2 separate regions of the Homo sapiens genome follow, and region 1 is linked to region 2. Evidence: fine-mapped expression QTL. A gene starts in region 2. The other region holds a variant in brackets. All regions are shown on one strand. Distances are between the middles of the regions.

The links.
Region 1: its variant is fine-mapped to the expression of SELENON in whole blood (TOPMed, PIP above 0.99).

Annotation. Positions count from the first base shown.
Region 1 is chr1:25,729,487-25,732,387 of GRCh38, reverse strand. The region is part of intron 2 of MAN1C1 (mannosidase alpha class 1C member 1); the gene reads right to left. Among named protein-coding and RNA genes, the nearest start is that of SELENON, 69 kb to the left of the region's middle. The variant T/C (reference allele first, on the strand shown) is at 1,415.
Region 2 is chr1:25,798,809-25,801,709 of GRCh38, reverse strand. SELENON (selenoprotein N) reads right to left here and starts at 1,517. Exons shown (of 12, transcript NM_206926.2): 1 at 1,297-1,517; 2 at 550-667. The coding sequence starts at 1,479. RefSeq lists a silencer at 1,653-1,792 and an enhancer at 1,602-2,323.

The DNA of each region.
Region 1 (2,901 bases), 69 kb after region 2:
GGACTCAACTCTGGCCATCTTCCCTGGTTGCTCTGCCCTTCACTGCTGTGCCATTCCATTCCTGCACAACTTGGGAGACTGGGCCTGGTTTGGAGGGTCCAAGAAGGTCCCAGGGAAGTACTCTTGGCTTTGAGACCACAGGCTACCTCCTGAAGGCCTGTGGCTTAGCCTGACCCTATCTCCCACCTCTGGGCTGGAGCAAGGCCCCCCTGCAGCAGGCACTACCTTGCAGAGAGCTGCCGCCTCTCCCTAGGAGCCTGGGCACCCTCTGCAGGAGCCCCCCCAGATGCCCTCGAGGGATGGCTCTTCTTACCTACACCATTCTGGGCCCCACCACTGATCCCCTGGCCCAGGCTCACTCATAGGAGGGTCTGAGTTGGTCTTTTTCTCTGACAGATGGTAGCCCTGGAAGGAAGAGATCCTGCCAGATGCATCTTTGGAGCCACCAAAGAGCCTAGTGTGATGCCAGGTGCATGGTAGGTTTGGAGTAAATATATAGTAAATTAACCCTGACATAGAACAGAGCAGGAGCCGAGAGCACACATGACCACAGGCCAGACAGGTGGCCTTCTCTCCATCAGGCCATGACGAATCCATCTGGTTTACTCCCAGCATCAGTAAAGAGGAGACCAGCCCACACTCCTATAGACCAAGGGCCTCCCTTTTCTTTGGTCCACAGGCCCCTTCCAGAACCTCACAGAAGCCACTCAGGCTTCCCCTTGCCAGACTTACCTGTGTTAGAGAGGGAGGAAGGAGCCTGAGACAGATTCCTACAAAGGACAGAGTAGGGCAGAAACTTTGGAATCAGGTAGACTTAGAATAAAATCATAATTGTCCTATTACTAGCTGTGTGACTTCTGGTCAGCTACCTTATCTCATGAGCCTCAACATCCTCCTCTGTGAAATGCAGATAATGTAGACGACTGAAGCCACTGATGCTAGTGGATACACAATGAGGTTTGTTTTCCTTAAATGTAAATGGACTACAGAGGATACCTATGAGTTGCCTCTCATTTGATGATGATGATGATGATGATGATGATGATGATGACGATGATGATGATTATTGTTATTTTTTGAGTCAGGGTCTCACTCTGTTGTCCAAGCTGCAGTGCAGTGGCACGATCACAGCTCACTGCAGCCTTGACTTCCCTGGGCTCACGTGATCCTCCCACCTCAGCCTCCTGAGTAGCTGGACTACATGAGCATGCCACCACGCCTGGCTAATTTTTTTGTACAGACGGGGTTTCGCCATGTTGCCCAGGCTGGTCTCAAACTCCTGGGCTCAGGCGGTCTGTCCACCTCGACCTCCCAAAGTGCTGGGATTACAGGCATGAGCCACCAGGCCTGGCCTCATTTGATTTTTTTAAAGCAGCAGCGATTGTGGGGGAAGCACAGGCTTGTGGTCAAACCA[T/C]GTGCCTTGGCTCTGTGGCTTACCAGCCTGTGACCACAGCCAAATGACTTAACCTCTCTGAGCCAGCAGCGAGTCTGCATCTGTCCAAGGTACTAGCAATAACCCTGTCGCAGATGTGGGTGGCCTGAATCAGGTGAAGGGTGCAGGACTCCATGAACAGAGTCTGGCAGGAGAGTGAAAAGGAGGAGGAAGTGCCCACACAGGGAGAACCCCCTCCCCGCTTGCCCTGTCCACCCACCCACAGCCAAGCCAGGCCTCATCCAGTCGTGACAGCCCTGAGCATGCTTCTGGGGCAAGAACTGCCTCTGTTTCAGACCTCAGTGCCCAAACAATTCACAAATGCAGCAAACGTGCCACGGCCCAGGAGACAGCTCTCCGCTTCAGAGAAAACACACAGTTCAATTTCCTAAAGATCGAAGCCCAGGAGCATTTCAAGGCTTTCCTGGCGAGAGCAGTTCTCAGAACTCAGGAGGCACCACCCTCATGTGACTGAACAATTAAAGCCCCTAGTATTTGTCATTCTCAGCTAAGGTTTTCGAGGATGGCTGAGAAAACTAAAAAAAAAAAAAAATCTGATTTTGGCAGTGTGGCTTTCAGAAATATATGGTAATCCATTTTTGTCAATTCACAGAAGGCACAGCTCAAATCATTAAAAAGCCATCGTGCTTAATCATGCGTGGAGAAGGCCAGTCTCTGCCTCTGAGATCATTTTAAAACGGTTTCAGGGTAACTGTCAAAAACTGACAGGGAAGCAGGGAGGGGATTATGACAGACCATAATCTGAGGAATTTCTCTTTCTGGTTCTCAAAGGGTAAGGGATTTATCTGAGAGGAAATCACCACCCAGACCTTGGCCTTGGTGCTGGTGGGGACAGTGGTGAGGAAGATTCTAGGATGCATCAGGCCTGACCTCTGTCCTTACGGAGGCTGCAGCTGCTTTCTCAGAAAGACAGTAAGCAATTTCCCAGCAAAACAGCAAGTAAATGAATGATTATGAAGCCTTGTGACAGGTGCTAAGAATAGGTGGAAGTTTATGCAGCTGTTAAGGCCTGGCTGTGAGCCACGGGGACCTGGGTTTGGAATTTGACTTTGCCACTCTGCAGCTGTGTGACCTCACACACACTCCTCACAGACCTGGGTTCCTCATCTAGAAAATGGGATGCCTGGCCAGGCACGGGGGCTCATGCCTGTAATCCCAACACTTTGGGAGACCGAGGTGGGCAGATCATGAGGTCAAGAGATGGAGACTATCCTGGCCAACATGGTGACACCCTGTCTCTATTAAAAATATAAAAATTAGCTGGGCGTGGTGGTGGGCGCCTGTAGTCCCAGCTACTCGGGAGGCTGAGGCAGGAGAATTGCTTGAACCCTGGAGGCAGAGGTTGCAGTGAGCCGAGATCATGCCATTGCACTCCAGCCTGGGTGACAGAACTAGATCACATCATTGCACTCCAGCCTGGGCAACAGAGCGAGACACCATCTCAAAAA
Region 2 (2,901 bases):
CCAAGGAATGGTTTTTTTGTTTTTTTGGTTTTGCTTTGTTTGTTTGTTTTGAGACAGGGTCTCACTCTGTCGCCCAGGCTGGAGTGCAGTGGTGTGATGTCAACTCACTGCAACCTCTGCCTCATGGCCTCTAGTGATCCTCCCACCTCAGCCTCCCAAGTAGCTGGGACTACAGGTGTGCACCACCACACCCGGCTAATTTTTGTATTTTTGTAGGGATGGGGTTTTGCCATGTTGACCAGGCTGGTCTTGAACTCCTGGGCTCAAGCGATCCTTCCATCTCCCAAAGTGTTGGGATTACAGGCGTGAGCTACCTCGCAGACCAAAGAATGTTAGCTGGTATTATTGCTCACAAGTCTGAGAAAAACAGGCTCAGGGGTTGCTGGAGCAGCTCGCCCAAGCCACCAGCTACAAAGTGTCAGAGCTGGGAGGAGTCCAGGGCCTCTGAGATCCCACGAGCTTCCCTCCACTCCAGACGGCCGCTCCTGCTCAGTGAAGACACCGTTGGCCAAGGCGCCCTCCTCCCCAGCCGCCAGTCTCTCCTGGTACCTGTTAGCTTCTCAGCAATGGGTTTGAACTCCTCAGGGCTGATGTACATATCCCCGTCAGTGTCCAAGGAGGAAAAGAGAAAAAGGCCATCTGTCCCCAGGGTCTTCAGCGCCAGTTCCTGCTTGGGAGGAGAGACTGGGCTGGGCACCATTTGGCGGCCTGGTCTCCTGGTCCCCAACAGGCAGTTGCTTCCGCATGGAGCCCCTTCTCCCACCATCTTCCTGAGCTCTCCCAGTGCCTCCCGGTCCATCTGTGCAAATGTTGCCTCTGAACTGCCCCAGAGCCTCCAGTCCCTCCTGGTCCCTGCTCATCCACTGTCTGGTCCGACTGCCCCCTCCCAGTTTGTCCCCACTCCGCCTTCCGCCTGGCCCTGGCTGCTTGGCCCTGTTCCTCCTGCACCTTCTGTCCTCTCCTGTGTCCCCTCCTCACTGTCCCAGGGCTCCCCAGTAACCCTTTAAGACTCTGCGGGAACCAGCTTCACTGTGTCCAGGTCACCCCTCTGGATAGAGACCCCTCCAGTCTGTCCCAGCCCCACACTGGCCTCCGTTCGCCTTCCCCCCATCAGCCCGGCCCCAGGCACCCCCCACCCGCCTCCCGTGTCCCCTCCTTCCCGTGCTCCCTCCCGTCCAGTCCCCCTCCGCCCTCCGCCTCCCCCGACTCGTCCATGCCCATGTCCCCCCTGCTGCCGAGGCTGGGTCCTTCAGTCCCCGCTCCCGCGCTCCCGCCCCAGCCAGCTCGGGCCCGGACCTGCCGCGCGGCCGCCTGGGCCTCGGCGTGGCGGGCGCAGACCCGGACGGCGGCGGCAGCGGCGGCGGCCAGCAGGGCTCCGAGCAGCGCCAGGGAACGGGCGCGGCGGCGCGGTGGCGCGGGAGGCTGCGCGGCGGGGCCGGGGCTGGGCGGCCCGCGTTGGCCCGGCCGGGCCCGGCCCATGGCTGCGGCTGGCGGCGGCTGCCGGCGGCCCGGGAAGCGAAAGAGCGGGGCGGGGCCGGGGGCGGGGCGGCCGGGGCGGGGAGGGGCGGGGCGGCCGCAGGGGCTGGGCGGGGGGTCGCTGGTTCCCGGCTTCGCAGCCCGGCCAGAGCCCGGGGCGGGGTCAGCTACACCGGAACGCCAAGAGGGGCTGATCGCGTCTATGCGGTCGGGTCCGTAGTCCCGGCCACCCCAGCCTCCCCAGGCCGCTTCCTGCCTCTCCGCGCCCCTTCCCGTGCTTCCGTTCCCAAAGCTAAGCCAGGCCTCTGCGGCCCACTTGCCTGGCCCAGCCCAGAGAGCGATTCCAGACTGGGGACTGGGACAAAGAAGGGGCTGGGGAGAAGCCACACACCCTGTGCTTTCCTGGAGAAGGGGCGTCGGGGGCCTCTGAGGCCTCGTGTCCTCCTCTGCTGGCAGCCGGGCACGAGGCCAGAGACTGCTGAGGGGCATCCGTCCATCCTTATCCCACCAGTTTTCTAAAAGTTCCTCTGTCATCTAGAGCAAGACAAATTAAAAAGAAAGCCCAGCCCCTGTTCCCCTCATGTGCAGTTGGGGGGCCACCTCCGCAGATGCATGGGTTATGGGGATTGGCCTTGTTCCAGGCACAGCAGGTGCAGCTCTGAACCTGCACTTCCCTGGGCCCAAATTTCCTCATCTCCACCAAGGAGTTAAAAGAGCCCCCCAACCCCCACCCTCCGGGCTCTGGTCTGGTGAGGGGAAGGCGAGGCTCCAGCCCCTCAGCAGCTGGAGCTACCAGAGGCCCTGGCTTTTCTGGAGAACAGCATGCGGCATGCTTGGAGGAGGGCCTTGGAAATAGGGGTGGGTGGTGTTGAGGACATATTTTCATGCCTGTCAATCCCCAGGACCTTGGTTCCTTGGGGCTCTCTTCCATTCTTTCAAAGCCCCCAGTTACCATGGGGTGGCTCTAGATGTCTCTACCTGCATTTTCTCAGGCGAGGGTGGCAGCTGCAGAAGCCTCTAGACAAGAATTCTGAGCCCAGAGGTGAGCAGTGCCTGCCTTTGCAGAGCCCCACCAACCCCCCCAGCGCAGGGGCACCTGTCAGGCCTGAGGGATCCAAAGGATGCTGAGCTCTGCCCATGTGCTGGACTTCAGGTGGGGTGATTTACACATTCTCTCACTCTGTTCTCAAGCCACCTTGTGAGGTAGAGACTGCTTCCCTGGTTTTCAAATGAAGAAGCCTGACCTCTGGCACCCAGGTCTATGGGTCCAAATCTCCTGCCATCCTGCCTCCCAGGCTTCCCACGGGATGACCCGGTCGACTGAGTTGGGGGTGGGGTCCTGCCTCCACTGCCCATCCTGTTCTTCTTTGGTGGCCAGCCATGGCAGCACCAGGTGAGGCCTTCCCAGAGCCCACACAGGGCGTG